5 separate regions of the Homo sapiens genome follow, and all the other regions are reported to be linked to region 2. The links are microRNA targets in miRTarBase. Many come from high-throughput screens and were not tested one by one. Region 2 holds a microRNA gene; each other region holds the end of a gene's coding sequence.

The links. The annotated mature microRNA hsa-miR-224-5p reads UCAAGUCACUAGUGGUUCCGUUUAG and lies in region 2 at 1,123-1,147, shown strand. An mRNA with a match to its seed (bases 2 to 7 or 8) in the 3' UTR can be bound and repressed. Matches are read on the target gene's strand: a 7mer-m8 pairs with bases 2 to 8, a 7mer-A1 pairs with bases 2 to 7 and ends in A, and an 8mer does both.
Region 1: miRTarBase lists EYA4 as a target of hsa-miR-224-5p. The part of its 3' UTR that is shown has no 7-base or 8-base seed match.
Region 3: miRTarBase lists GNA11 as a target of hsa-miR-224-5p. The part of its 3' UTR that is shown has no 7-base or 8-base seed match.
Region 4: the mRNA of CDH1 is a reported target of hsa-miR-224-5p. Seed matches in the 3' UTR shown: 7mer-m8 at 2,106-2,112.
Region 5: miRTarBase lists HOXB3 as a target of hsa-miR-224-5p. The part of its 3' UTR that is shown has no 7-base or 8-base seed match.

The regions. Positions count from the first base shown.
Region 1 is chr6:133,528,029-133,532,205 of GRCh38, reverse strand. EYA4 (EYA transcriptional coactivator and phosphatase 4) reads right to left here. Exons shown (of 20, transcript NM_004100.5): 20 at 78-3,481. The coding sequence ends at 3,401. The region is part of intron 6 of TARID (TCF21 antisense RNA inducing promoter demethylation); the gene reads left to right. Among named protein-coding and RNA genes, the nearest start is that of EYA4-AS2, 74 kb to the right of the region's middle.
Region 2 is chrX:151,955,775-151,959,774 of GRCh38, reverse strand. It overlaps MIR224 (microRNA 224), which reads left to right and starts at 1,117; the gene lies at 1,117-1,197. GABRE (gamma-aminobutyric acid type A receptor subunit epsilon) reads left to right here. Exons shown (of 9, transcript NM_004961.4): 7 at 3,915-4,000. It overlaps MIR452 (microRNA 452), which reads left to right and starts at 63; the gene lies at 63-147.
Region 3 is chr19:3,120,265-3,124,442 of GRCh38, reverse strand. GNA11 (G protein subunit alpha 11) reads right to left here. Exons shown (of 7, transcript NM_002067.5): 7 at 444-3,454. The coding sequence ends at 3,264. It overlaps LOC124904615 (a long non-coding RNA gene), which reads left to right. Exons shown (of 3, transcript XR_007067092.1): 3 at 35-131. Among named protein-coding and RNA genes, the nearest start is that of GNA15, 14 kb to the left of the region's middle.
Region 4 is chr16:68,832,645-68,836,840 of GRCh38, reverse strand. It overlaps CDH1 (cadherin 1), which reads right to left. Exons shown (of 16, transcript NM_004360.5): 16 at 1,304-3,551. The coding sequence ends at 3,342. Among named protein-coding and RNA genes, the nearest start is that of TANGO6, 8.8 kb to the left of the region's middle.
Region 5 is chr17:48,546,885-48,550,884 of GRCh38, forward strand. It overlaps HOXB3 (homeobox B3), which reads right to left. Exons shown (of 5, transcript NM_001384749.1): 5 at 1,986-4,000. The coding sequence ends at 3,450. HOXB-AS1 (HOXB cluster antisense RNA 1) reads left to right here. Exons shown (of 7, transcript NR_102279.1): 4 at 1,491-1,579; 5 at 3,005-3,062; 6 at 3,456-3,518. Among named protein-coding and RNA genes, the nearest start is that of HOXB2, 3.8 kb to the left of the region's middle.

The sequences.
Region 1 (4,177 bases), not on the chromosome of region 2:
ATGAAGACCAGAAACCTAAATACAAATTTCACATGATTTAGAACCAAGCTAAATAAACACACAAAAACTCTACAACATGGGAGGGTGAAGGAAATGAAAACAATTGCAAAGGTATTTATTGAGAAATAGTAAAGATATACATATTTTTACAAGCTTTTAATATTAATTTACATTTCTTTTAAATTATGTAGGCCCCAATAATCTATACTTTACTAATACATAACAGAAACCCTTGACATTGTGAGATGTCCATAATGCTACCGTAGTTGGGAGTCAAAGTGCAACTTTGGCTCATGATGCTTAAGTTTGTTTTCAAAAGAAATACTAAATGCCATATTCACTGAGAATGTAGGCTTGTCATAAACAAATGTGCTTTAAAAAAAACAACTTCATATAGGAGCATGCTGTTGACACTATTCTGAATCTTAGCTCATTGCGGACTAAGGAGAAAACATTTTTAGAGACAGTTATTACCTACTTGTCGTGTGCAAACTGTATGATTCTAAAATATGTTTTTGCCTCTGAATTTGATTTACAAAATTTTGCAGGGGCATAGTGTCCTAATTGTATGCTATAATACCATAGCCAGGCCACCTATTTTGTTATGGAAATTACATGGTCTTGATATTTTTAAGGTGCAACACAAGGTGGTTATCTTTCGTAGTAATATACCAAGCTGTATACATAATAGCCGAAAACCCACTTTAGTTACAGAACATTTTTCAAACTGGTTTACAATAAGGCACAATATTCCATATGTCAATAGGAGGTGGGAACTGCCAAGGGGTTGGTTTTGTGTTTGTTCAGTTTTCGTTTTTCAGATTAGAAAGGAAGAGGATTTTCTATTCCTAAGGTGGGAAGGGAAGAGTTCTAGTTTGTGCATACTCAACGTCCCATGGCCAAGCTGTGATGCTGGCTCGTGGGCCTGCACCATTGTTGTGCCAGACAAGCTGTTCTCCGTCAACCTTGCATTTAGGTTTTATGCCGGCAGCCTCTTCTGAACACAGAATCAGAAAAAGAGATGTGTGTGAGAAACTGCACGGGGTGATGCAACCAGCCGGCTTCTCTTTGCCCTTCCAAGGGGTGTTTCTTTCTGCACCCACAGACTTAGCAGCATAAAAAGCCTTGCTTGTTTGATATGAAAAGACTTACAAATTTAGATGTAATGCCACAATTCTATCAACATTTAAAGAAACCAGCTATACAGTAAAGATAATTTGTTTTTATTCACAGTAATAAATATTTAAGGTTTTAGTGCACAACATAATTAAGTACTGATAATCAAGGCAACATTTAAATTTTTTTAACTGCTATTTTCAAGCTAAGGGCCAACAGAAGTATAAGATTTACTATCATTATTTTTATATTATTAAAGGTATTCCAACTTTAATTTGCCTGGAATAGTACTTGGGGCAGATGCAGCCAAAAGCTACAAAATTTAAAGGATTAAGTTTAAGGTTTAGATAATGAAATCACAATCTTGTACAAAATTGGGATCTCAATATCTTTCTACCCAATATAAACATGGCCTTAGCATTCAGTAAAGAAATACAGGTTTGTAGCCTAAAGAAATGAAATCATATTTCCACAGTGAATGTTGTGATCTGTGAGCAAAATGTAGACTTTATTGAAGCCACAGAGGCCTCAGTTGATGAACTCATGAACCAGCCTCTGGCTAGGGGCACTGACTAGTAGCCTGACTCCAGGATCCACATTATGACATTTTAAACACAGAACTGCAGGTGCAGACACCATAAAAATACTCTAGTTCTTAAAGTCTTAAATTTCCACAAGGGAAATCGTGTCATAGGAAATAAGAGGAGAACCTGTATCGTGTTCCCAACATGGGCTACACACAAGGAAAAAAACCATGCAAACACAACGATGATGGGCTCTTCTTGTAATGAATGCCATCCGTTGCGCAGTGACAATACAGGCAGAAACTAACAAACATATGCAAGTCTGTTACGAGGAGAACCTGCATTGATGTATTCAGATGGAGAACCAGGTATTATTTTACTGTTGTCATTTCAGCAGCGCTGCCAAGATCCAGCGCACTTGCTAATTTAATTTATGATGATATTCTAGGTAAAATTTTCATAGACTCATTGCTTTCATTAGACACCATCTGGGAGAACTGCCTTCCATTTCTGATGATATTATCATTTTTGCCATGGCATTGGGAATAAACATACTTAGCTTTATTTTAAGCCCTGTGCACTCAATGTGAATTTTATGCCATGTTCATGGCACATTCTAAAAAAGTTTATGTGATAATTGCTCATGATTTGCATGATAATATCCTCCTCTATGCAACTTACACATATCAAAAGTCTCAACCTCAAAACTGTGCAAGTTGTCATGAATATGGCTCTTAGTTTTCTCCAGTAAAACTGTAGAAGGGGTACTTGAGACTTCTACATACATTTCACTTTCTAAGTAAAGGTCCCACAGTCTTTCCCAAACCTTCCACTCATGGTTGGATGCGCAAATAGTTGCCTCATACAATTATTGGAATTATTAAGAACCCAAATGAAACACAAGCTTTCCTTTATTATTGTTGTTTTCTTATTGCAAAAAATACTCAGTTTCTTGCTGATGCGGTAATTAAGCTCTGAGAGCTTGACTTTTAAATTTGGTCATGTTAAGAATCATCACAAAGGTTTTTTTTTTTGTTTTTTTTCATTATCTACAGAGATTTTAACCAAAGTTACATTGTAACACACAAATGCTGTCTTGTCTTTAAGGCACAACACATCAGTATGAACATTCTGTTTGCCAAACTTAAAAAAGAGACAATATTATATTCCCATTTCCCCTCCCATTCCCCTCCCCAACAAAAGAAAGAAAAATTGCATCCACTTTGAAAGTCAGCTGCTAATAAAGTCACAGTAAATTATTTTCATCAATAATTTACACAAATTACATGTCTAAATAGGACTGTCCTTATACAGTCTGAGTGCATTCCAATTCAGATTTTCTGGGTTAGGTAGGCTAAAGTCAGATTCAAACCTCAGGGCTGAGAAGATCTCCCATTTTGAGGAATGTTGTTGACCACCTTGTCAGACGGAGCATGTGTGTTGCTGCTTTGCCAGGGTAAGAGTTCTTTGCTAAAGCTGCTCATTCCAGTTTGGACTCATTTGGTGTGTACCAGCAACCTCCACAGATTTTTAAAAAACCCATTAAAGTGTTGTAAATATAAGACCATAGAGTTTCTTTTCTGTAGCACTAAAGTTTAACTCCATTCAGCAATCTGAATTCTTCATTCTGGAATTTTTATTCCAAATATGATTTCATCCATTAAGACAATTTATATGTGTAGAGCCAGAGGCATTGAATCACACATAAAAATTCAGTGTACTTGAAATATAAAAAATGGATCTCCGGCTAAAGAACACAGTTACAAATACTCTAATTCCAGTGCTTGGTGGAGAGCCAGGAGGTCTGAGTGACTGGATATCCTCCAGAAGGGCATGTTGTGCTGTGTGGTTAGGAGAAGGAGGGATGGGAGAGAGAAGGGGAAGGAATGAGGCATGGAGAGAGATCACAACCATTGTCTCAATGAAGCAGCAGCACACACAGGGATGTGTGGTCCACCCAAGTTCAGGGGAGAGAGTTTAAAGGCGGGATGATCATATGTGAAGGCTTGGCAGCACCAATATGGCACTGTCAAAGTAACAGAGAAATAGATCTGAACTGGATTTTAATGAGAATAATAGCAAATATTAACATTTCTTAGATAGTTTAATATTTATTCTGGAAGTATCGCTACCAACATCAACATCTGGGAAAGCAAGTGGGCATCAAAATCCTACCTGGCTAATGGAAAGCAAGTTTTAATCAGTGCATCACTCCTACGGGCCTCTCAATTAAAAATAAAATGAAACAAAATGACAAACTTCTTAATTTTGTTAATCTAGGAAGAAAAGAGGGTGAATTCCTTTCTGTATAAAAATAATTTGAAGCAGGACTACATAAAGTAGAAAAAAAAGGTGGGGATTATAACTTTCTTACTTGTCTGGGACAACCAATAACTTAAGCCAGTAGAGTCGACCTGATTTATTTCACTGGCGTAGAATTGAGAGAAAGTACTCTAGCATACATTTTCAATGGGGAAGATATCTCCAAAGGGACACAAATGAGCTCTTGTGGGGCAGAAAATCTTAGACATTACAGT
Region 2 (4,000 bases):
ATACAAATGCTTTGCAGTCATCCCGTGCAAACATTGTAAGACATGGCTCCTGTCTTATAATTGCTAAGCACTTACAACTGTTTGCAGAGGAAACTGAGACTTTGTAACTATGTCTCAGTCTCATCTGCAAAGAAGTAAGTGCTTTGCCAAGCTCCTTGAGAGGTTAGGTAAGTAGATAAAGTTCTGCTGCTGTCGGAATGTGCAGCTGGCTTTTTCATGCAGACCCTTCAGTTTCGAGGTTACAACTCTGACCTCTTTGGATGACTTTGGGGAATGGAGCTCGTGTGAGTTCTCCATACCCAGAACCAATCCAGTCTGGTTGAATGGGAAGCAAAGTCCATTGTAGTGGGAGGTGGAGGCTAGAGTTCTAATGTCAGCTAGTTTAAGGCTGGGAAAGTCTGGAGGAAGTTACAGCAGCTACACTGGCTGCTGCATTGACATTTATCTTAAAGGAACAAGTCTGAAAAGCACAGATTCTTATCAAAGGCTTCATGGTGGATTCCACATAGACATAGTGGCCACTGGTTTTCTGACCTTTTCTCTGACAAAGACTAAAGGGGAAGGTCCTGGGTATCTTACACTTCAGCTCCCAATTAGATGTGAGCACCTTCACTTATGTTCCTAGGTGACCTGAATGAGGAGCCAAGGGACCTCCCCAGGGTAGCTCCCAGAGCAACCCTGGAAACACTCTTCACACATCCTGACCAAGTTCAGGGCAGTGAAGGCACTGCCCTCATCGTTTCCAGAATGTGGATGGAGCCAGTCACCCAACCAGCCATTTGTCGTGAGAGGCATCTTGTTCTGCTACCATGTGACTAGGCAGAAAATCTGCTTTTGTTTCATTTATTGAGTCAGTCTCTGGATGAGGGAAAGCTCATGCTCATGTGGCTAGAGCTTTGCTTGCACAGTATTAGGCAGGGGCAGAGGGCTGGGCTACCTTAAAAATACTTGCCCTTTTTCTTGGGGACTCTGGGGAAGCGGTTTTACTACCTTTGACTTGGGAGCCTTGCTCTTCTGCCAGCTAACCATGGGCCTGCCTCTTGGTTTTCTGCACCTCAGCTTTTCCCGGATAGGTGGGGACCCATCATCAAAAGTGACAGAGAAGATAAGGCCCAGGGGCTTTCAAGTCACTAGTGGTTCCGTTTAGTAGATGATTGTGCATTGTTTCAAAATGGTGCCCTAGTGACTACAAAGCCCCAGAGCCAGCATCATCATCAAAGCAATGACAGTAGGTAAGCACCAGACCTCCTTGGGAGTGAGGAGGATTCTTGAGGAGAAAAGAGGTCTTCTTTCTCCTCTGCTGGAGACTAGTTGATCTGGAGACGTGGTTCCTTCAATGTCAGAGTTATCTTTGGGACTGGTCTCAAACTCTTCCAGTTGGGCCCTGGGGCAGGTCTCTCCATCTGGAGCATACTTACGTGCTCGGCGATTAAGGGTTCAGAATGCAGTGGTAGCCTGCTACTCTGGCCATCTTGGACCTTGATCCAGAGAATCTCTGCTTCAGGAGCTTCTAAGAGAGTCCAGCCCTGCCTCCAGAGAGAGGCTTGCCCTTCACTGATGGCTGTGGAGCCTCTGATGGAATATTATTGCTGGTCAGGAATTCACTGTCTTACAAGGAGGTTTCCTTCTTCTCTAGACAGTTCTGTTCATCAAAAAACTCTCCCTGTTCTTCTGAAATTGGAGTCTCTGGAAGTTCCACACATTAAGCTTAGTTCTTTTTCCTTGGAACTGTCCAGGTTACATTAGTCCAGCCACTGTTTCACAGGACCGAGATTAAACGATCAACATCATCATTCCCGGCATGGATCATAGTCTGTTGTAGTCTACATAGCCCTAGTTTATTTTTCTTCCCTTATTCTTCAAAGCTTTGGGTCCATTCATTCTTCTAGTCCCAGTCCTCTGGACATGGTCTATTTAATTGTGTCCCTCTGACACTGCAGTGACCAACCATGATCTGGTCAAAGAGGATAAGAGTTTGAGCAGAAAACCATCTTTAGCATATATTTTTTTGCTTTGGTTCATCAGCCCCAGATATATTGTTTTCCTTACCCGTGCTTCTCTCACTCCTCAAGAAGAAGAAAGTGTGTGTTAGCATCTTTCTCTTGTCCTTCAAGACAAATTGGCATCTCTTGACGAGCGGAGAAGGTTCTTTTTTGGCCAGAATAAATAAAATTAAAATAGAATCATCCAACAGAATAATAAATCTTCGTGCAACAAGAATATATTATATAAACCCAGCAATTTTGCAGGGCCTGGGTATAACTAATTAGAAGTGTCTTAAATTGCAGTCAAGATCCCACGGCAAGAGGACTTTTGATAAATACATTCTGGCCAGTAGGCAAGTGCGAGGGTGGTCCGTGCAGCAGCTCTGGAGGAGTTCTATCCCAAAGCTATACTCAACACACAGGTTTCCCACTGACAACAGGTCGCTCCCTTGCCTTCTTCCAGAAGAATCTGAGAAGCTTTGCTCCTTGAGTTTCAGTGCTGCCAAGGTGAGTACGAAAGGCTGCTCTTCTCATTCAGCTCCAGCCCACCCAGACCTGCTGGGCAGTTGATCCACTTTCCAAAATAGGAGGACACACGGACAGGTTAGTGTTCTGGTCTGCTTTACAAAGCTGTTGCCTGACAGGAGCAAGAGTTGCTGAGTGTCTGCTGGGTTCCAGGCTGTTCTGAGCTTGGATGGGCAGGGGCTAAGCCACAGGGCCTGCATGAGCCCTGCCTTGAAGGGACTTAAAAGACGACCTAATTATAGGCCTAGGAATTTTACAGTATTGCAACTGCAATGTGATGCTGAAAGTGGAAAATGATGTCCTGGGCTCAGAGAAAAGCCCACACCAGCCTGGGAGTCATGATAGCAGCAGAGTGCTTGGGGAGGGTGTGTCAGAGCATAAAGCAGCATGAATGCTACAAAAGAAGATGCCAACTAGAGATATAGGTTGTCATCAGGTCCCGGAGGAGCCATGACCGTCTAGCTGAGAGCCATGACCAAGGACACAATGTCCAAGTGACTGTGAGGACCTCAGTCTGCCCTGTGGATGTGTATGCCACAGACCTGACTTCTGGAGGGCTGACTGAAATGTTCATTTTAAGCTTTTTCTTCTCTTTCCCTGAAACACTCAGTTTGGGTTAGGGGTCATAGACTAAGACCAAAGAGTCCAGGGTTAGAATCTTGGTGTAAAATTGCAGGCCATCTCAGGAAATCTGTGAGCAGATGGGATTGGCTTTGGGTAAGGTGCGTGTGGAAAATGTCAGTGGGAGCCGGGTCATGGTGGGCCTTTAGCATCAGATTCCAGAGTGCAGATAGTCTGTATAGCTCATGTGAAACAGGGAGCCACCAAAACTTTGGGGAGCAGGCTAGTGCCGGTTTTGACCACCTGTGGAGCAGTGCTCACTCACGAAGGCATTTTGCCATCACATGAATGTGCAGAAAGGAGGCCAAAAGCATTCTGTGCTTCTCCACCACAGCACAGACTTCCCTAGTCTCATTTGCTGAGAGTAGACATTCTGAGGGCCAGCAGTGCAGGTGTGATGTGCCTCAGAGGGTATGAAGCCCTTAGTCAGCCATCTGGATATCAGCTGCGTGGGCATGATATCTAGAAGGCTAATTGATTTTTTCACTTTCACCTGACTCTCTTGCCAACCTGCAGAGACAGACATTGGGTGTAGGACAGTGAACTGAGAAGGAAGCTATTAAGATTCTGGCCTTGGCTTAGCTCTCAACTGGCCATTGGTCTTGCAGTAAGTCTTTTTTCTGGGCTTCTTCTGGTCCTATTTGTATGTATTGCATTGTCACATCATGCCTCTATCCTAGGGAATACTGTGAGCTGAAAAATGAGACCCTTACTGTTCACGTCCTGCTAAGGGGGACCGTCGTGTCAGCACTGTAATGCAGTGATGTTTTTTGTGTCTTTCAGGTGACTTCATGGTCATGACGATTTTCTTCAATGTGAGCAGGCGGTTTGGCTATGTTGCCTTTCAAAACTATGTCCCTTCTTCCGTG
Region 3 (4,178 bases), not on the chromosome of region 2:
AATTTATCTGTATTTTACAATTTTTTTTCAAAAGGAAAAAATAACTGAAGGAAGGCTGCAGAGGTCCCACATCCGCAGCTTACAGAAACGGAGGCCCGGAGGGCATGATGTCCCCACAGGTGCCCTGGAAGGTGAGGGGCAGGCTGGCCTGGGACCTGGGCTCCTCCCCGTCTCACTCCCTTGTCCCCAGCCCCCAAACAAGGTGGCATTTCCCAAGCAGGTTGCTCTGGCCTGGTGCTAGTGAAATGAACTTGAAGTGAAGGGTCAAACAAGATGACAGGGGAGGGGCCCCGGGACACCGTGCGGAGGCACCCAGGCGGCCCCACTGAGGTCAGGCAATGCCCTAGGTAACTCCAGGGCTCCTGGGGGCCAGGCCTCTGCACACTTCCCCCCAGCCCCCTTTGAAGGACAACAGGAAATAAACCAGAAGGGGGCCGCCAGCATTTAGGAACAAAATTTATTCCAATTTAAAACAGAGTTCATTTCAGGAGAAAGATATGAAAAGTCGACTTCCATCGGTGTCTGGATTAAGGGTCAGGGCCGGTGGCTGTGGGAGGTGACACTGAGCCGCTCCTCAGCCCCTCCTCCCATCCCCAACGCGCACAACACATGCATTTCAAATGGTAAAAGGCTTAAAAACAGCTTGTATAGAATATTCTTTTTTAAATAGATTAAGGTTGAAATTGTCTGAAATCAGGACTGTGTAATATACAAGTATCACTGGGTCCCGTCCGCCAGGCCGGCCACAGGATCTGCTGCCACCACTGGGGGACATTGGCACGGGGATGCCTCCCTGGGGGAGCCGGGGGACCCAGGGCATGGGTTTGCAGTGGCCGGGGGCTGCTGCCGCCCGGGCGTAACATGGTCGGAGAAGGTGGTCGGCACTCACGAGAAATCGTTGGCAGGTGAGATTCACCAAGGTAAAAACACACACCCCACATGCCCACGTGGCCCCACACGTGGCAAGGGTGGGGGTTGGCTGTCCTTGCCCCTGGGTGCCACTGGCACGAGAACCACTGCCTGGGACTCTCCTGGGGCAGGCACCCCTGCCCTGGGCCTGCAACACCTACCTCTGCTTTTTTGGGGGGCAGGGGATCAGGCACTCAGACCCAGAGGATCCAGGCCACGACGTTTTGGCGGTCCCAGCCCGGCTCTGGGATGCTTGGCACGCCCCCTCCCTGGGAAGGCCTAATACTTAGCCCCGCAGCGCCCCGGCCTGCGTGCTGGGCGACTCCACCCTCAGGCCACGGCCAGGTCACCTTGTGCAATCTAGGCCCTCAGAGATGCCACAAGCACAGGCCCCCCAGAGGGCTCCGCTGCTGGAAAAGGTTGTAGCGGCCCTGCCAGGGGTGGCCCCATCTGCTCCCCCAGGGCACCGCCGGGCCCCAGCACTCGCCATGGGGGGCTTCTGGCACCAACCCTCTTAGGTAGACACCTGGCACAAAAAAAGGACGCTTCCGGGTGAGACAGAAGTGGTGTGGGGAAGCCGGGGGGGGGGTATCCCGCCAGCCCCGTCTCCCCATGGGGCTGATCACCAGAAATGTAGCTGCCCTGACCTGGTCTCCCCTGACCCTTCCACGGGGCTCCCCGCTCTTCTGCCCCCAGAAGCCAGCAGACAGCCCTGCGGACGAGGAGGCCAGGGCAGGCCTGACAGTGGCGGGCAGGCAGGCGGGAACTGCTGGTTGGAGTGGTCGTATTTTGGGGCTGTTTCTTTTGTCATCTGTCGAGGCCAGAAGCAGCCGTGCAGGGTCCCGGTGTGGCGGCGGGCGAAGGCAGCACAGGCGATCCATCCCTGGGACAGCTGTGCGAAGCCCGGAACCACAGGGCGCTGTAGTGTTCAGTCAACAGCAGACGAAAAAGCCACCTCCCCAAACACAGTCCCCTCGTTCCCCACCTTCCGAGTCTCTCGGGGAGAACCAGTCTCGGTGCCTCAGTGCCTCAAGGGGCCCCGGGAGGCGGCCCCCGGGGCTGTGGCTCAGTGCGGCGTGGCCTGGCGGGCTCCCCCTCGGGCCGTGGTCGTGGCCAGCCAGGCCTGGAAGCTGCCCAGGCCGGTGCCTGCCACCACCTTCCACGCGCCCCTGGCCAAAGTGCGAGTGCTGGCTTCCCGCTCCCCGGGGGCGGCGCTCGGGGGCGGGCGCAAGTGCTTGGGACAAGGCCACGCACAGAGCTGCCGGCCACGTCCCTCTCTCTGCCTCTCGGGTACACACCTGAGAATATTCTGTAAAAGTCCCCACCCACCCTCGCTGTTTCCAAATTGGTGACATCACAAAGCGGAACAAAACAGAAACGCCCCCATCCAAGTGGCCTTTCTCCCAGTGTCACCGGGGGACCATCCCTCCAGCCGCCCAGCCCACGTGGGCTCCGGTGGGGTGCGCTCTAGCCAGGGCAGGGTGGCCGTGCAGCCCTCTGGAGTCCCCGGGCAGCCCCAAGCAGCCAGTGTTGGCCCCGGAGGCACAGCCCAGAGAAGCCCCCGTGGCTCCAGCCCGGGGACCCTTCCCAGCCTCTGCAGAGGGACGGGGAACCCGGCCATGAGAGAGGGCCCAGGGTGTTTCTTCAACCTGTGAGTCAGGCGTTCTTTTTCCTCAAAAAAATAAAATAAAATAAAAGGTTAGGCACTTCCCAGGGTGGGCGACCGAGGGAGCCCCCCACCCCCTCTTCAGGAGTCCAGTGGGCAAAGCACAGCGTTGATGGGTGAAGAGGCGAGGCGCGCTGGGCGTCAATAACTTAAAAAAGGGGAAAAACGTCCGTCTCCGAGTCTCCACGCCTTTTGTGATGAAGAAAAGAAGCGGGCAGGAGAAAGAAAAAGCACGTGGGGTTGGAAGGACAGCCACGGGGGGCTGCGGTGTGGGGGCGCGTGACTGGCTGCAGGGCGGGGCCCCATGCTGGCTGGCGGGGGCTCTGTGAGGCCCAGAGTCACTGGGGGCACGGGGCGCTTGTGTGTTTTATGTTTCGTTGCTTTTTTTCTTTCTTTCTTTTTTTTTTTTTTTTAGAAAAAAGCGAGCCATAAGTCAAGGCCAGAAAAAGGCTGCCTTTGCCGTTGACAAAAGGTGAGAAGGTGCGCGAAGTGTACGGAGGGAGAGATGTACATCCCCTGATAACTGTGAAATAAAAACCATTTGTTAAAAATATGAAAAAAAAAAATCTCCTCCCGCGGGCAGAGGCCCCGGCCCGGACTCGGCAGCGCCACCCGCCCGGCAGCCGCAGGCTCCGTGGAAGGAAGGTCCTGCCCCGTGTCTCCATCCCGTCTCCCTGGGCCTGGGCGCTCAGACCAGGTTGTACTCCTTGAGGTTGAGCTGCAGGATGGTGTCCTTCACGGCCGCGAACACGAAGCGGATGTTCTCCGTGTCGGTGGCACACGTGAAGTGTGAGTAGATGATCTTGTCGCTGTCGGGGTTCAGGTCCACGAACATCTTCAGGATGAACTCCCGCGCCGCCTGGGCGTCCCGCTGGGGACCTGGGGGAGGGCAGAGGGTGAGGCTGTGCCCCAGCCCGGCCCAGGGCAAGGGACTCGTGGGCCCCTTTGTCACTCCCAGGGGATGAGCGAGTAAGGCCCACGGCCCACCCAGCTCGACCCCCAGCCCACTGCATGCCTGACGGGCCGCAGCTCCCCTCCCTCCCCAGGTGAGCTGCGGTGCCAATCCCACTGTAGCCCCAGGGCACTACTGTCACGGCCCAGGCCTCCAACCTGGGGCTCTGCACCCACCGCTGCTCCCTCTGCTCAGCCCTCTGCCGGCCTCTATCCACTCAGCTCCACAGCCACAGCCTTCCAGGGCAGGCCTCTGGCATGGCTGCCCTGCGAAGGCCCAGGGTGAGAGGAGAGGCCCCCAGGGCTGGGCACAGAGCCTACAGAGCAGGAACAGTGGCCCCCACCCACCCACGGTGCCCCTGCTGCAGCCAGGCCTCAGAGACATCCAGGGGCTCCAGCAGGGGCGCTGCTTCCCACCGGCCACCCCTGCCCCTCCACCACCCTGGACAATGCAGGCGACCCGCCCAGTAACTCCTGCCTGCCCCGGTGGAAAGGCCCCTGGGGGTGTTCAAGGGGCTGCTCTGGGGACTGGTGGGACAGGGGTCTATGCCCCAGTCCCTTGGCCTCCCCCCACCAGGGCTCTCTGAGCCCACAGGACAGGCTGCTGGGCAGGGGCCACGTGCGGCTGGAGCAGGTGCAGCGCCCCCCGCCA
Region 4 (4,196 bases), not on the chromosome of region 2:
TGAAAAAGTTCTGAAGATAGTGGTGATGGTTGCAACACAATTTGAATATACTTAATGTCATTGAACTGTATACTTAAAAATGGCTACAATGAGGCCAACGTGGTGGCTCACTCCTGTAATCCCAGTACTTTGGGAGGCCAAGGAGGGCAGATCACTTGAGCCCAGGAGTTCAAGACCAGCCTGTGCATCATAGCAAGATCCCTGTCTCTACAAAACAATTTTTAAAATTAGCTGGGCGTAGTGGTGCAACACCTGTAGTCCCAGCTACTAGGGAGGCTGAGAGAGGAGGATCATTTGTGACTGGGAGATTGAGGCTGCAGCGAGCCGTGATTGTGCCACTGCACTCCAGCCCGGGTGACAGAGTGAGACCCTGTCTGAAAACTTAACAAAAGGGCTAAAATCATAAATTTTATGTTGTATTTTACAATAAAAAATTACCCAAAGAAAAAAGTCATACCCCTTCAACAGAGAAAAGTTTTAGGCTTACACCAGGGTTTCTTAACAGTGGCTGACATTTTGTGCTGGATAATTCTTTGTTGTGAGGAACTGTCCCGTGCAGGGATGTTTAGCAGCACCCCTGGCCTTGATGTGGTGACAAGACCACCTCCCCAGGTACTCCAGAAATTGCAAAATGTCACATGGAGGAGGGGGCTACATTCTTCCCCAGCAGAGAACCACTGGCCTGTACTCACTTGCTGACCCCGAGAACATCGTTTGAAACTTTGCTCTGTCCCGTCCTTCAGCTTGGCCCACACAGTCTCCCGTGGACATGGGAATTTTATTGGTTTCATCACATGCCACATGGATGGATACTGTTCAAATAAAGTTACCATGTGAATGTAGTTTCTCCCATGTTCATCCAGTAGAATGATAGAAACTTCTGGAGAAGTCACTTCAGCATGAAGTTTTTTAAAAATTTTTTTATTTTTTTGAGATGGAGTCTCCTCTGTCACCTAGGCTGAAGTGCAGTGGCGCAACCTCGGCTCACTGCAACCTCTGCCTCCTGAGTTCAAGTGATTCTCATGTCTCAGCCTCTCGAGTAGCTGGGACTACAGGCGCGCGCCACCACGCCCAGCTAATTTTTGTGTTTTTGTGGAGACAGGGTTTCACTACGTTGCCCAGGCTGGTCTCAAACTCCTGAGCTCAAGTGATCTACCTGCCTCGGCCTCCCGAAGTGCTGAGATTACAGGCATGAGCCACCGCGCCCGGCCTCTTTCTCCACGTTTTGACTGAGGCCATCTCCATGCATCTTTTCTCTTGACTGGAAATGTGGTGGAATCAAATAAAACAAATTTGACAATGGTTTAACAAAATTGTTTAATAAAATTTATAAAAATGCATCTTTGAGAATACTTTTCTCAGCTTGAATTGTTTTCCTTTTCCACCCCCAAAGAAAATACACAATTATCAGCACCCACACATGTATACACTCAAAACTACAGTGACATTCTCTACACAGAACTATATTCGATATAGCTTGAACTGCCGAAAAATCAAGACAATTCCAAAAAGTGATTGCAGGGTTGATTTTTTTCTCCAAAACACTTGAGAAACAGTAAAGCTATTTCAACAAAAGTCTTTTCTTTGATTGTCAAAAGTTGAAATTCACATTTAAATAAAAAGAGATCCAAATCAAGATCCTCACTACCCCCTACCCCTCAACTAACCCCCTTTAGGGCCACATTTTCTTCTTGCTCCTAAGAAAAAAATTTGGAATTTTGAATATTCTCGGTTTTCTGTGCACACCTGGAATTGGGCAAATGTGTTCAGCTCAGCCAGCATTTTCTGTAGACATCATCAAAAGCAGGCACTTGGGGATTCTGGGCTTTGAGTACAAACCACGGATCTTGTGTCAGAAACACATGTTGAGACTCCTCCATTCCTTCCAGAATTTTCAGAGATGAGGTAGACCCACCTCAATCATCCTCAGCATCAGTTTGCTAAATTGCCAGGCTCAATGACAAGCTCTCCTGCCATCTCCAAGCCCACTTTTCATAGTTCCGCTCTGTCTTTGGCTGCAGCACTTTAGGCACTATTCTAAGTCCTGGAGTATATCACTCTTGCTTCAGAGCTAAATAAACATTAATGAACACACTTACTCAGAACAAGTCACTGGATAGCTGCCCATTGCAAGTTACATACTCAGGAGATGAAAGAGGGAAGCCATTAAAGGTCTTCAGAGTAGACAATACCTAGTCAAGATGTGGCCAGACAAAGACACAAACTTCTTACCCTAAAAGAGCCCAATAATTTCTGCATCAGAGAACTCCTATCTTGGGCAAAGCAACTGAATTCAGGAGTGAGAGTTGATATTAAAACATGGAGGCTGGGCACAGCAGCTCATGCCCACAATCCCAGCACTTTGGGGGGCCAAGGCAGAAGGATTGCTTGAGGCCAGGAGTTTAAGACCAGCTTGGGCAACATAGCAAGACCCCATCTGTACAAAAAAATAAAAAGGAGGCTGGTGGGAGAACTGCTTGAGCCCCAGAGTTTGAGGTTACAGTGAGCTATGATCACATCACTGCATCCCAGGCCTGGGCGATGGAGCGAAACTGTCTCTTAAAAAATGGCAGGGAGTTGGGGAGCTGGGCAGGTGCAGTGGCTCATGTCTGTAATCCCAATACTCTGGGAGGCCAAGATGGGAGGATCACTTGAGCCCAGGAGTTTGAGACCAGCCTGGGTAACACAGGGAGACCCCGTCTCAAATATTTAAAAAATTAGTCATGCGTAGTGGTGCATGCCTGTGGTCCCAGCTACTTGGGAGGCTGAGGTGCAAGGATAGCTTGAGCCTGGGAGGACAAGGCTGCAGTGAGCTGTGATTGCACCACTGCACTCCAGCCTGGCCGATAGAATGAGACCCTGTCTTAAAAAAAAAAAAAAGGCAGAGGGACACACCAGTGTAGTAATGAGCAGAAGCACACAAATTTTTTTTAAAAAATTATATACACAAAACAACAGAACTAGAGTAGCTGACTTCTCCCCTTCTTTTTAAAAGTGAGACAAAATTCCTTAAGAAAATCTGCAAGGTGCTGGGTGAACCTTCTGATGCTAAAGTTGTTCTTCTGGAATATTAAAATTTGGGTATCTTTTGGACATCACCACCATGTAAAGAGTGATGGGAAAAAAAAAAAAGCTTTAAGAAATAAGTCGAAACTTTTCTAACACAAACTTATTAGAGCTATAAAGTGGAGAGAGTATAAAGCTATACTAACTGCATCACTAACCAGTCTCTTTTTTTTCCCCAGAAACTCATCTCAAGGGAAGGGAGCTGAAAAACCACCAGCAACGTGATTTCTGCATTTCCCAGCACATGGGTCTGGGGCCCGCCTCTCTCGAGTCCCCTAGTCGTCCTCGCCGCCTCCGTACATGTCAGCCAGCTTCTTGAAGCGATTGCCCCATTCGTTCAAGTAGTCATAGTCCTGGTCTTTGTCTGACTCTGAGGAGTTCAGGGAGCTCAGACTAGCAGCTTCGGAACCGCTTCCTTCATAGTCAAACACGAGCAGAGAATCATAAGGCGGGGCTGTGGGGTCAGTATCAGCCGCTTTCAGATTCTAAAGAAGAAGGGACAAAAGCATCTTTTAGTGAAAGGAAGGGCACACCTGTCATCTGGGGCAAGAAGTCTAGCAATATGTAAGGTACGACAATGCACCCAGACTTGTGGCACACCACGGAGCAGTGAACACCAACAACGTACATTTATACACACTGTCATGGAAGGATGCAGAAGCACAGGATATGTTGTTGATGGAAAGAGAAAGTGAAATGGTGAGTTATATGTAGGCAGGAGAGATGCAAGCACCAACCAGTCAGGATGGAGTCCCCATAGATCAGAGTGGGGCTGCCACACCACCAGCTGGGATGGGCAGAGCTGGAAGCTTTGCATACTGGTGCATGCAGGCTGCATTTCCACCCAGAAAGGCCTGGAAGGATAAATGCCAAATGCTTAACAGTTAAATCTGGGGAGTGGGGGTGTGGGAACTAAGGAAGGACTTGTATTTTTTTTCTTTTTCTTTTTTTTTAGAGACAGGGTTTCACTCTTGTCACACAGGCTGGAGTGCAATGGTGTGATTTTGGCTCACTGCAACATCTGCCTCCCAGGTTCAAGCGATTCTCCTGCCTCAGCCTCCCAAGTAGCTGGGTCTACAGGCATGCGCCACCATGCCCGGCTAATTTTTGTATTTTTAGTAAAAACGGGG
Region 5 (4,000 bases), not on the chromosome of region 2:
TGACCTGGGCAAAGTGGCCAGCGACAGTAGTGTGCAACTAGGCTCCAAAGAAAACAATTTTTGCCATTTAGAGGTGTGGATGGGGGTGGGCATAGAATAATCCAAATAGTAGCTGTCTGGAAGTCATGCAGGGAGGCCTGAGAGTGGGTTCTCCCTCTGGCCACCCCCTTGAACACCTCTGAAAGTTTAGCAACAGCTTCTGTAGCTGGCTGAAGGATCCAGAGCTTATCTCAGGCAACTCGGGCAGACTGTCCCTGCAGGAAATACAGCTCTCTCTAACCCTCACTGACAGATTTTATGGCCAGATTAGCAAACAGCGGAAAACTTGGGTGTTAAAAGGGGCCCAGAGAACCCTCCTTTTCAGAGACATCCCTCCCCCGCCCCCCTGTCCTGCTGTGAATTTAACAGCACGGATATTTTACCCACGTCTTTGGCTGCTTTAGCTGAGCGCCTGGAATCTTCCAAAGAGAAGGATAGGGAACACCAAGCCAAGTTGGTTCTTATTTTTCTTGTTTGCAATTCCAGCTTCGAGCCAAAGCTCTGTTTTTCAAACTTAAGCTAAATTCTCTTTCTTGGCCTCTTTCCTGCTAGATAAATAACAACCCAACCCAGCCCCAGAGCCAAACATGGTGCTTCATCTAGTTATATCATTCAGAAAATGTTATTCAAGGAAGAAGAGAGAAAGAGAAAGAAAGAAAAACCCTTGAGCGTTATTTGATCCCAATCAAACTTTGCACGCTCTTATGCCTTTAAATTATAGCCTGACCCAATGCTAAATTGCTTGCTGCTTGGATGAGTCCAGTTAAAATCCTACTTGGTGGTGGGGAAGGGGGAGGGCGTAGAGTTCAGGTTGCTTTTTTATTGTTATTTATTGTTGCATAAAGACTATAATTACTAACCTTGGACTGCCAGGATGCAACATAAAAATGAAAATCAGCCCTCTCTTTAAGGCAGGGCCTGGAACGATTCTCACTCCCCCAACATCACTACCACCAAATATATGCTCCTAATTAAGCAATGCGGGCACATCGCTTACAATTAGAATTATGCAGCTCTTCAGCAAGCAGCCATCGCTTCTCTTTCAACGAATTAGCTCCATATTTCAGCCGCCCTGTCTTCTCGCTCTTATCGGCTCCAGCGACTCGGCGGTGACATTTCATCTTTGACAGACCTTCTCTATTTTCACTCCAATGTGATAAAACTTTTATGGAACCACAACTAAGAAATGAAGTTTTCCCAAGGATGATGGAAACAGAGCCGCACATTAGCCTGGGGACCGTTTTATTTACGCTTGGATCCAACAGCTTCTCCCACCCTCCTCTCCCCTTTCTCTGGCAGGGGAAATCGAACGTGCTTCCCCTCCCTCCGCCTCGAGTTTTATTTAGTGATTTAATTTTACTTAGTTTTAAAGTTTGACCTGAGAAGTCTAGGCCTCAGTTTTGTTTTTTTTTTTTTTTTAGATTAATCATTTTTCTTTGTTTTCATTTTAGACCCAATGGTGGTTGGGCTTCGGGTCACGTGACACCTTCTTTGTGGCTCCGGAAGAGGATTGTGAAGTTTAGGTTTCGTGGAAGAAACCGTAATCGGCCAGATTTTCTTGGTGGTGGTGGGAAGGGGTGGGGGGTGGGGGGTGCATGGACGCTGTGGCCAAAGGAGCTAACAGACGAAAGGTCAATGAATGAAAAACCTAGAGGCATACAGGCCAAACAGAAAAACCTACAGAGAGCATCCAAGAGTCCCCCGTTACCTCCCAACTTGCTACTTAAACCACAGCTGAAGAAGTTGGCAAAATGTTACAGGCTCTTATGAGTGAGAAAATGGTATTTAAACTTAAGACATATCAAGGGGGAGACAGGAACCTGGGCAGTGGACAAAAAGGCCAGGGAAGGGTCTTCAGTGTCCTTGTCCTTGTCCTTCTTCCCTTGGGGGAAATTTGGCAGTCAGCAGCCTTGCTCTGCTATCTAAATTGGACCACCAGGACAAGATAAAATTGATAACAGAAAGTTTATTCAAGAATTGTTTGACAGACAACCCTTTTAGGTAAGGAAAAAAGTAACTACTGAAGAACAAAGAAAGTTCCAAGAGGGAATTAACTCTAGTTCTACAAATTCAGGACTATACAGTGACGATTAGGAGCTGAGTTCATGCCTTTTAGAACTAATTACAATTGTTCGTAAGTACGAGTTTAACATAAATCTACAGCTCTTTTCTAGAGTACAATAGTAACTAAAATAGCTGGTTTTACATGACAGGAAACACAATGTCCTTTGTAACAGGTAAATACTAAAAAAGTACAATTTTTTCCTTTTTTTCCCTCATATAAATACATAATGTAGGGGGATAAATAATACAAAAAAGAAAATATTTTAACAGGCTATAACCAATAAATATATATGAAAATGTTCACTAGAACACACGCTTTTTTGAGCAATGCTGGACTTCTGCAGGCCCAGACATCTCTCACAGTTGTTTTTACATCCATTAAAATGTAAATTCTAAGTGCAACAAAAGTGTCCTGTCAGGAGGCTGAGCAAGGCACACAGGCCCTGCCCAGCCCCTGCCTGGGACAGTTTGTTCAAATATACCCTGTTTTCACGTTAAGTCAAGAGAGCAACAGAAGAAAAGTATAGAACCTCGTGTCACCAACTGCTTTCTGTGGAGAGGGGGATGGAGCTGGAGCTGAGATGGAGGCAGCAGAATGGGCAAACCTTCAGTCCTAACAACCTGCCTGCCCTAGCCTCCACACTTTTCCTTAAAAAAAAATGTATATAATTTATAATATAGGCAGCTCTTTCAGGATCTCTCACCATCCCTGAGCCCTCTAAAAACTGTAATTGATGGGGGTGGGATGTATAGATATGAATGTTCTAGAGCAGAAAAACCGGGGGCTAGAAGTGTACCTCAATAAACCTCAAATGGGAACAAATTTGAGGTTTTGGGAAAGTTGGAAGGGAACGTGTTTTGTGCCTTTTGGGTTTGAAATGTGTTTTCTTATTTTTTAAAGGATAATTGAGGAAAAAAAAAAATCAAGATTTGGGGGGAATTACCTACAAAGATGTAAGGTAAGTCCGTTGGTTGGTGATGGCCTAGCCATCTTGTCTGGTTTTTAAAATGTGCTTTTCTGCCTCGTCCTGTCTCGTCTTCCTCTACCCCACTCCCGGGCGTGGAATTCCAACTTGGTAGTGCTGGAGCCCTGGGGTTGATGGGGTCATCTCCAATATGATGTGGATTCCTTTCCGATGGGTTGGCAGGCAGATGGAACAAGGGGTGGAAGACTTAAAAGCAACCTCTCAGGCCAGGGGGAAGGGAAGGAGCTCCAGGCCGGTTCTGACCAGGAAGCCTGGGTACCACCTTCTCTGGCTCCTCTTTTCAGACCTCCAGGTTGCCCCCCAGAGCTCCACAGTCTCTCTCTTCCTCCCCATCCCCTAATCCTCGTTCGCCCTTTCCCATCACAGGTGTGTTAATTTGGGCGCTTCTTGGATTCTACCCTGAGGAGGAGGCGCGTGGTGAGAGGAGAGGTCTGTGTAGGTGGGGTGGGGTTCGCAGGGTCCGTGGTGCTGGCTGGGCGCCATAGGGGGCGCCCCGTTGTAGTCCAGGTTCCCGGAAGGGTGATGGGAAAGGTGGTTGAGGCCATAGAGGGAGGGGCCGGCAGGGGGCGGCAGCGGATCCGCGTAGCCGCCCCCGCCCACGTACACCGGACTGCCCTGCATGGTGGGCGTCCCGTAGGCGCCCCCGTTGGCTTGGAGGACGTGCGGCTCATACTCGGGCGCCGGGGTCGGAGGGTACTTCTGCGGGGCGCCGCAGCCTTTGAGAGGGGGCTGGTAGTTGGAGGGCAGCGCGTAGGCATTCTGGTGGGCTTTACCGAAGGCGGGTGGGGACGGGCTCTCGTAGCTGGGGGTCATGGAGTGTAAGGCGTTCATGAAGCCGGCCGTGGACTGCATGGGCTGCGGGGGGCTGCCGGCTGGAGATGGGCCCCCCGACGACGAGGCCAATCCCTTGG